Homo sapiens: one gene and its partner. The protein of the gene in region 1 purifies or fractionates together with the protein of each later gene. This does not show direct contact. Each region holds a gene or a part of one and is shown in the gene's direction. Other genes may lie near its edges.

What was found. Proteins that work in one complex are often made in the same cells at the same time.
Region 2: the proteins of STYK1 (region 1) and HEATR1 purify together in Homo sapiens (affinity purification with mass spectrometry; one large-scale study listed by BioGRID and IntAct). This does not show direct contact.

Annotation. Positions count from the first base shown.
Region 1 is NC_000012.12:10,632,553-10,636,052, reverse strand, and holds part of STYK1 (tyrosine-protein kinase STYK1), read left to right. Parts: intron 1-1,366; 5' UTR 1,367-1,434; coding exon 1,435-1,486; intron 1,487-1,928; coding exon 1,929-2,063; intron 2,064-3,500. UniProt on the Homo sapiens protein: Probable tyrosine protein-kinase, which has strong transforming capabilities on a variety of cell lines. When overexpressed, it can also induce tumor cell invasion as well as metastasis in distant organs.
Region 2 is NC_000001.11:236,594,517-236,598,016, reverse strand, and holds part of HEATR1 (HEAT repeat-containing protein 1), read left to right. Parts: intron 1-37; coding exon 38-139; intron 140-1,040; coding exon 1,041-1,181; intron 1,182-1,972; coding exon 1,973-2,184; intron 2,185-2,343; coding exon 2,344-2,477; intron 2,478-3,500. UniProt on the Homo sapiens protein: Ribosome biogenesis factor; required for recruitment of Myc to nucleoli. Involved in nucleolar processing of pre-18S ribosomal RNA. Required for optimal pre-ribosomal RNA transcription by RNA polymerase I.

The DNA of each region.
Region 1 (3,500 bases):
ATATAAGCTATACTTCTGATTTTTGTTTTATGTTTTTATCAAGTCACTACAAAACTGGATCACATATTTAGACTTATTTAGCAGAAAATCATATTTTCTTTCAAGTTAATCAGAATTAAAGAAGTAGGCTTTGTTGACTATAGAACCATGGGAGTGTCTTGTCAAGCAAAGGCAAAATATAAATTTAGGAGAGGTATGGGACAGTGGTAAACATGAGTTCTCTTTGGAAAGAAAGAACCAAGTTTCTAGGGCTGTTATTTGAAATATGTACTGATTATATTATATAGACTTAACAGTGATACACATAAAGAATCCCTTGCCAGACAAACAAGAAACTAATAACTAGAGTCTACTTGGAGGAGACTGGAGGAGAGTTAAGAACTGGATAAATGGAGAAGAATGGGGGGGAGAAATATTTTTATGCTATACAATTTTACACTACTATTTTTTGAATCATATGAATGTATTTTCTTTTTATTTAAAAGAGAAAGAGAAGGTGGCTTGGTACTGATACTTCCTTTATATCCTTGTAGCAATGAGTGTCCGTGTCTATATCTGATATGAGCAGAGGAAGCACCTTGAAGCTCTGAGGGATGAGGAATTAAATAGTTTTTATTGATAAATGCTGTCTGTTCACTGCTTGTGAGGGTGTGGATATTTCAGAGAAACAAAGCAAATGTGTAACTCATATCCTTCGACATCTGTCAATTTTTTATTTGTTATCTGAATTAACTGTGTGTAAAAATGAAATTAAATGTTTTCTTTAGAGCTAGAAATGGTAGCTCATGCCTGTAATTCCAGAGACTCAGGGGATTGAGGCAGGAGGATTAATTGAGCCCAAGAGTTTGAGATTTAAATGAGCCATGCATGATCACACCACTGCACTCAAGCCTGGCTACAGAGCAAGATCCCAACTTCAAAAAATGTTTTGCTTAAAAAATATGATGCACAGCTAAAAAAAATATATTAGACATGCTTAATACTGTAGGGGAGGTAGATCATGCCCACATAACCCATGGATCACAGTTCAGATGGATGTTTTGAATCTGTACTTGATCATGGGAGCAGAAGTCTCGGGTGGGAGGGGAGACTTTAAAATAATTTCAGTAACAGTTGAATGAAAGGACAAGAGCAGATCAGAGCTCTTTGCTGTATAATAGAGAAAAGAGAAACGCTGAGAGGAAGAGAAGGTTGGGAGGGTTCTTCCAACCTGAATATCAGCTAGGTAGATAGAGATAAACGGATGACTCAGAGAGGTAGCCATTTACTTAACTAGTGATCTGTAGAGGCGGTTTAAAATTCTGTGTGTACTTCATTTATTTTTTTTCATTCATTTTATTTTTTTCAAAAACCACTCAATCCTTAGGAATTACTCACAGCTGTGCTGTGTGCATTCTCTGTGGGCCTAGCAGGGAAGGGGACAGCCCTGTGGCAATGGGCATGACACGGATGCTCCTGGAATGCAGTCTCAGTGACAAGTTGTGTGGTAAGTACGGATTCCACAGATGTCTATCCTCTGATTTTAGAATTATGAAGGCTAAGGTCTCGGTAGATTCTAGAAGGAGGATGATTTGATTTCCAGTAGAAATGAAGACAGTGGTGATAAAAGGATGGGGACTAGAGGCCATTGTCTTTTTGGGGAGAGGGTAAGTGCTAATCAGTGATCCAGATGCTGCATCTTCAATCTTGGTAAGAAACTGCCAGAAGCAACGTCATGCACATTTGATGGGCTAAGAAACAGAGTCACTGGGGTTTCTGGTTAGAGAGTTGCTCCCAGCAGTGTTTCTGTTGAATGGAAGTAGAGGAGATGGTAGAAGAGATGACCTTTTCATGTATGATGAGCTGAGAGCTGGCGGGTAGGGGAAATTGCATGAACACCAGGTTAGGCTTCTTCATTCTCTTCTCTTCCTGTGTGATCGCCTACCCAGTCATCCAGGAGAAGCAGTATGAAGTGATTATCGTCCCAACTTTGTTGGTTACTATCTTCCTCATCCTTCTTGGGGTCATCCTGTGGCTTTTTATCAGAGAACAAAGAACTCAACAGCAGCGTTCTGGACCTCAAGGTAAAGCTCAAACTTTGGGGCTGGGCAGGGGCTTAAAGAAGATGGAGATTAGGAAAAAGTATGGTCTAAGTTTCAATGAGCCCATGTCTAGAAGTCTAGGTACCTGCAATGAGAGAGGCATGGGTTCCCTCCCATGGAGTTGAGAGGGGGATGATCTCTTTTCTAGGAATTCCCGAGTTGGAATTCAACACGTGCTTACTGACTGAAAAAAGAGTGTGCAAGAAAAACCTCATATAACCTGTTTCTATTCCTGTTGGACTATCAAAACTTTGACTATATGAGTGCCTAAGGACCTAGGAGAAAGACCTAAGGGGGTAAAGTCCAAGGCTTTATGAACATCCTAGGAGGATGACATATCACCCTATGATACGTTCCATTCCTAATCTTTGCCTCCAGGATATATGATGGAAAGGAGGGGCCTTTATATTATAACAGTCTTTGAAGTGCTAAGTAGATGATAACAGTCTGTTCTGGAGTTCCACTGAGCATATAATAAAAGGGAATCAATTCACAGATGAAACTCAGGGTAAAAAGAAGGAAAAAGAAAACTCTCATAATGATATGAAACTCTATAGTGGCTAATCCTTAGTTTTTCTTTAAATTTTATCCCAATAGTCTTATACTTCACTTTTATAGAAAACTTCTCAAACAAGTTGTCTAAACTCACTCCTACTACTTCTACTCATCACATTCTCTTTTGAACACACTAAAATAAGGTTTTCATCTCTACCACTTCGCCAAAACAAGTCTTTCCAAGGTCATCAATGACAGCTGCATTGAAAAGTCCAATGATCAATTCTTAGTCTTCGTCTTACTTGATCTGTCAAAAGCATTTGAAACAATTTTAAACTTTCTCTTTCTTGAAATACTGAAAAAACTAAAGCCACTTCCTAAATGCTATAATTTTTAGTCTTATGGATTCAAATACATTTTCTATTCCAATGATAGTCCCTTGAACTCAATTCTCATATTAAACCACCTACTGCACAGTTTCAATGGAATACAAATCTCATATGTAATATGACCAAAACAAAGGTCCTGAAATTCTCTCATAAATGTCCTCCGCAAATAGTCTTGCCTATCTTAGTAAATGGCAAGTCCTGTCTTCTGTGTTTTCAGTCTCAAACCTTGAAGATATCAGTCTCAAACCTTGAAACACAGTTTGAGACTGTGTTTTCAGTCTCAAACCTTGAAGATAACTCCTTTCTTTCTCTCACAGTCTGTATCTAATCCATAAGCAAACACTGTTACCCTATTTTCAAAATAAACCCAAGTTACTCTCACATCTCACTGATCACTGCAACACACTCTTAACATTCCCTGCTTCTGCCCCTACTCCTTTATAGAAATGCCAGAATGAGTCTTTTAATACAGTCAGTCCTGTTAGTTATCTGCTTGAAATCTCTCTTCCACACACACACATGCAGTAGCCTCCCA
Region 2 (3,500 bases), on another chromosome or scaffold:
AATGTTGCTAGTAGTTTGTTCTTTCCATCAATAACAGCAATCTGGAGTGCCGTTAGCTAAAGGAACTTTGATTACCCACTGCTACAAAGATCTTGGATTCATGGATTTCATTTGCAGTTTGGTGACAAAATCTGTGAAGGTGAGCAGTCTGTTTCATGAGTATATAATTTTATGAAAAGATTGCTTGCTTTGAATGAAGAAAACATACTAAAACATTCCCTAATAACAATGATACTTTGGATAAATTTATTTTGTTAAATGGTCTGGTGTTTTGAAGCAGGAGCAGTTTGAGAGTCCGTATCTTTTTTTTTTTTTTTAAGAATCAGTCTTTTATCACCAAAGGTGTTTTTCTACAAAAATAAATGTCTATTCCTTGCCAGATTCTAGTTACAGTGACTATTCAAAGAGAGTGTCTAGAAATGTCGGGAATATTCAACCTGGGAAAGCTGTTTAAAAAATTTTAAGGCCAGGTGCGGTGGCTCACGCCTGTAATCCCAACACTTTGGGAGGCCAAGGCAGGCGGATCACTTGAAGTCAGGAGTTTGAGACCAGCCTGGCCAACATGGTGAAACACCGTCTCTACTAAAAATACGAAAATAAACTGGGCATGGTGGGGCATGCCTGTAATTCCAGCTGCTCGGGAGGCTGAGGCAGGAAAATCGCTTGAACCTGGGAGGCGGAGGTTGCAGTGACCCAAGATCATGCCACTGTACTGCAACCTGGGCGACAGAGACTCCATCTCAAAAAAAAAAAAAAAAAATTTTTTTTTAAATAAAAATGTTAGGAATATCATTAGGCAGTTAATTGTTGTCACATTGTGTATTCATTGTTGCATATGGTAATTCAGGAGAGCTGTAAATATTTATTTGGCCTTTCACTTTTTTTTTTTTTGGAGACATGGACTTGCTTTGTCGCCCAGGCTAGAGTACAGTGGTGCCATCATAGTTCATTGAAATCTCAGCCTTGAACTCCTGGCCTCAAGCAATCCTTCTACCTCCCTTTCACTGTTAAATGTGTTTTGTTTGTGTTCCTTGTTTCAGGTTTTTGCTGAGTACCCGGGCAGCTCAGCTCAGTTGAGGGTGCTCTTGGCTTTCTATGCTTCTACCATAGTGTCGGCGCTGGTAGCTGCAGAGGACGTATCAGACAATATCATCGCCAAACTATTTCCCTATATCCAAAAGGTTGGCACTGCTGATGTGTTAAGTAGATTATTTTGTACTTAAAGGAATTTTCTTGCTTTCGAAAGTTTTTTTAGATTTAAGTGTTTTTAAATTGACAGTTTATTTCAGATGATAGCTGAGATTTAGCCTTTAGGTTGAAAATATGACACTTTTTTATTAGAAACTCACTGGCCTGGGACCTTAATTAGGACTCTTAAGAATAAATATTGGCTGTCTGGTCCTGCGGCCATCTCCTAGATTGATTTCCATAGCAGTCTTTGTACCTCACTGGAAGGAGGACGGAGCAGACAGTCTCTTTGAGGCGTAAGCAACCTCTCAGTATTCTTTGTGCACTGGCTCCTGCCTCTCAGCGTTTCTCCTTCCCAAGTGCCTTCTTGCCTGCTGCCTTCCCAGGTGCCCTGTGGAGGTACTGCTTTCACTTCCCACCAGTGTCCCAACTTGTGACCTTTCATCAGACTTGTTTCTTCCATTAGTGATCTGATTGAGGTCTCCCTACTATAAGTAGGATTTTATGTATAAAAGAAGAGCTTACTGGCTCCTGTCAGGACATGTGGTAGATGTTTGAGTTGGGAAATTTTCTGAGATCCTTTGTCTCGTTCAACAGACTTGTCTCATCTCTGTATCCACTCTGAAAAAGGGGTCAGCTCCTTTATTGTTTATGTCTGAAGAGTGATTGACTATGCATTAGGTTGTATTAATCTCTATGACATTTCTAATTTGTCAGATTAACATTTAAAGTAGCAGAAAATAATATGGTTTATCATTTTTCCTTATATTTAAAAAATATTTAGGGATTGAAATCATCTTTACCAGATTACAGAGCTGCAACATACATGATAATATGTCAGATTTCTGTGAAAGTGACCATGGAAAATACCTTTGTGAATTCATTGGCATCACAGATCATCAAAACATTGACCAAGATTCCCTCTTTGATCAAGGATGGGTTAAGTTGCTTGATAGTGCTCCTGCAGAGACAGAAGCCAGAGAGCCTTGGGAAAAAGTATGTACAATTGAATTGAGAAATGGTGCTAGTCAGAGGTGAATAAAATTATTTTGAATAATTTTTTTTTGTAAGATAAGTGATTATATATTTTCTTATATTGTTACTCATTGTCTAACTTGTAAAGTCAACACGATATGTACTTTTGCTTCTTCAAAGGCCATTCCCTCACTTATGTAATGTTCCTGATCTTATTACAATACTTCATGGGATTTCTGAAACTTACGATGTCAGTCCTCTTCTGCATTACATGCTTCCCCATCTGGTCGTCTCCATCATTCATCATGTTACAGGTGTGTGGTTTTATATTTTTTGTCCAGAAATTTTCTAAGATTTGATCTTAAAATAGTAACCATATCCTGGTTAACAGCTTCAAAATATTTAAAATTTCTGTTTTCCAGTTGTTCTTGTGTAACTTGTCTATTTCTTAAGTGAGAAACATCTGGGGTGGGGAGCAGGTTGGTTGAAGAAAGATCATTGTTAATTGAGTAATTTCTTAGAATTTTACTTTTTTTAAGATCTGTGTTCTTAAATACTTAAATAGTCTCTACATGAAAAAGACTGGAATACTTTTAAAATTTATTACTGAGTAAACCTTTGCCTTCTCATTTAGGTATTTAATGAACTTTAGTGATTCATTTATAATGAATATCTCATCCAGTTGCCAAAAAAGTTTTTTCCCTAGAGTAATTAAAAATATAAGACCAAGAAAATTTTTATACATAAAAATCCAAATTATGAAACAAAGCAAAAAGCAAAAAGTAATAATTAGAGGGCCAGGTGGCTCAAACCTATAATTCTAGCACTTTGAGAAACTGAGATGGGCAGATCATGGCAAAACCCCGTCTCTACAAAAATATACAAAAATTAACCGGGCATGGTGACATGCAACTGTGGTCCCAGCTGCTCGGGAGACTGAGGTGGGAGGATCACCTGAGTCCAGGGAGTTCGAGGCTACAGGGAACTGTGTTTGTGCCACTGCAGTTCAGCCTGGGCGACAGAGTGAGACCCTATCTCAAAAATAATAATAATAATTAGAAAGTGATTATTTGCATTATGTCTTTTAATAAATACAGAAAGGCTAGGAAGAAACATTTGGTTCTGTTGCTACTTGGAGAATACTAAGAAAGACTTCTCTAAACTTATGTCAGTCTACTGAAAAATGAGGTTTTTGTAACCAAATCTTGGTTTGAACATGCATTTTAGAAAAGTGACTAGCAAAATGAAAATGTATTCTTCCTATTCTGAAGGTAATGAGTAATGTCCCAGTCTTTGAAAGCAAGGGCTAAGATCAGATTCATATGTTTATTATAAAT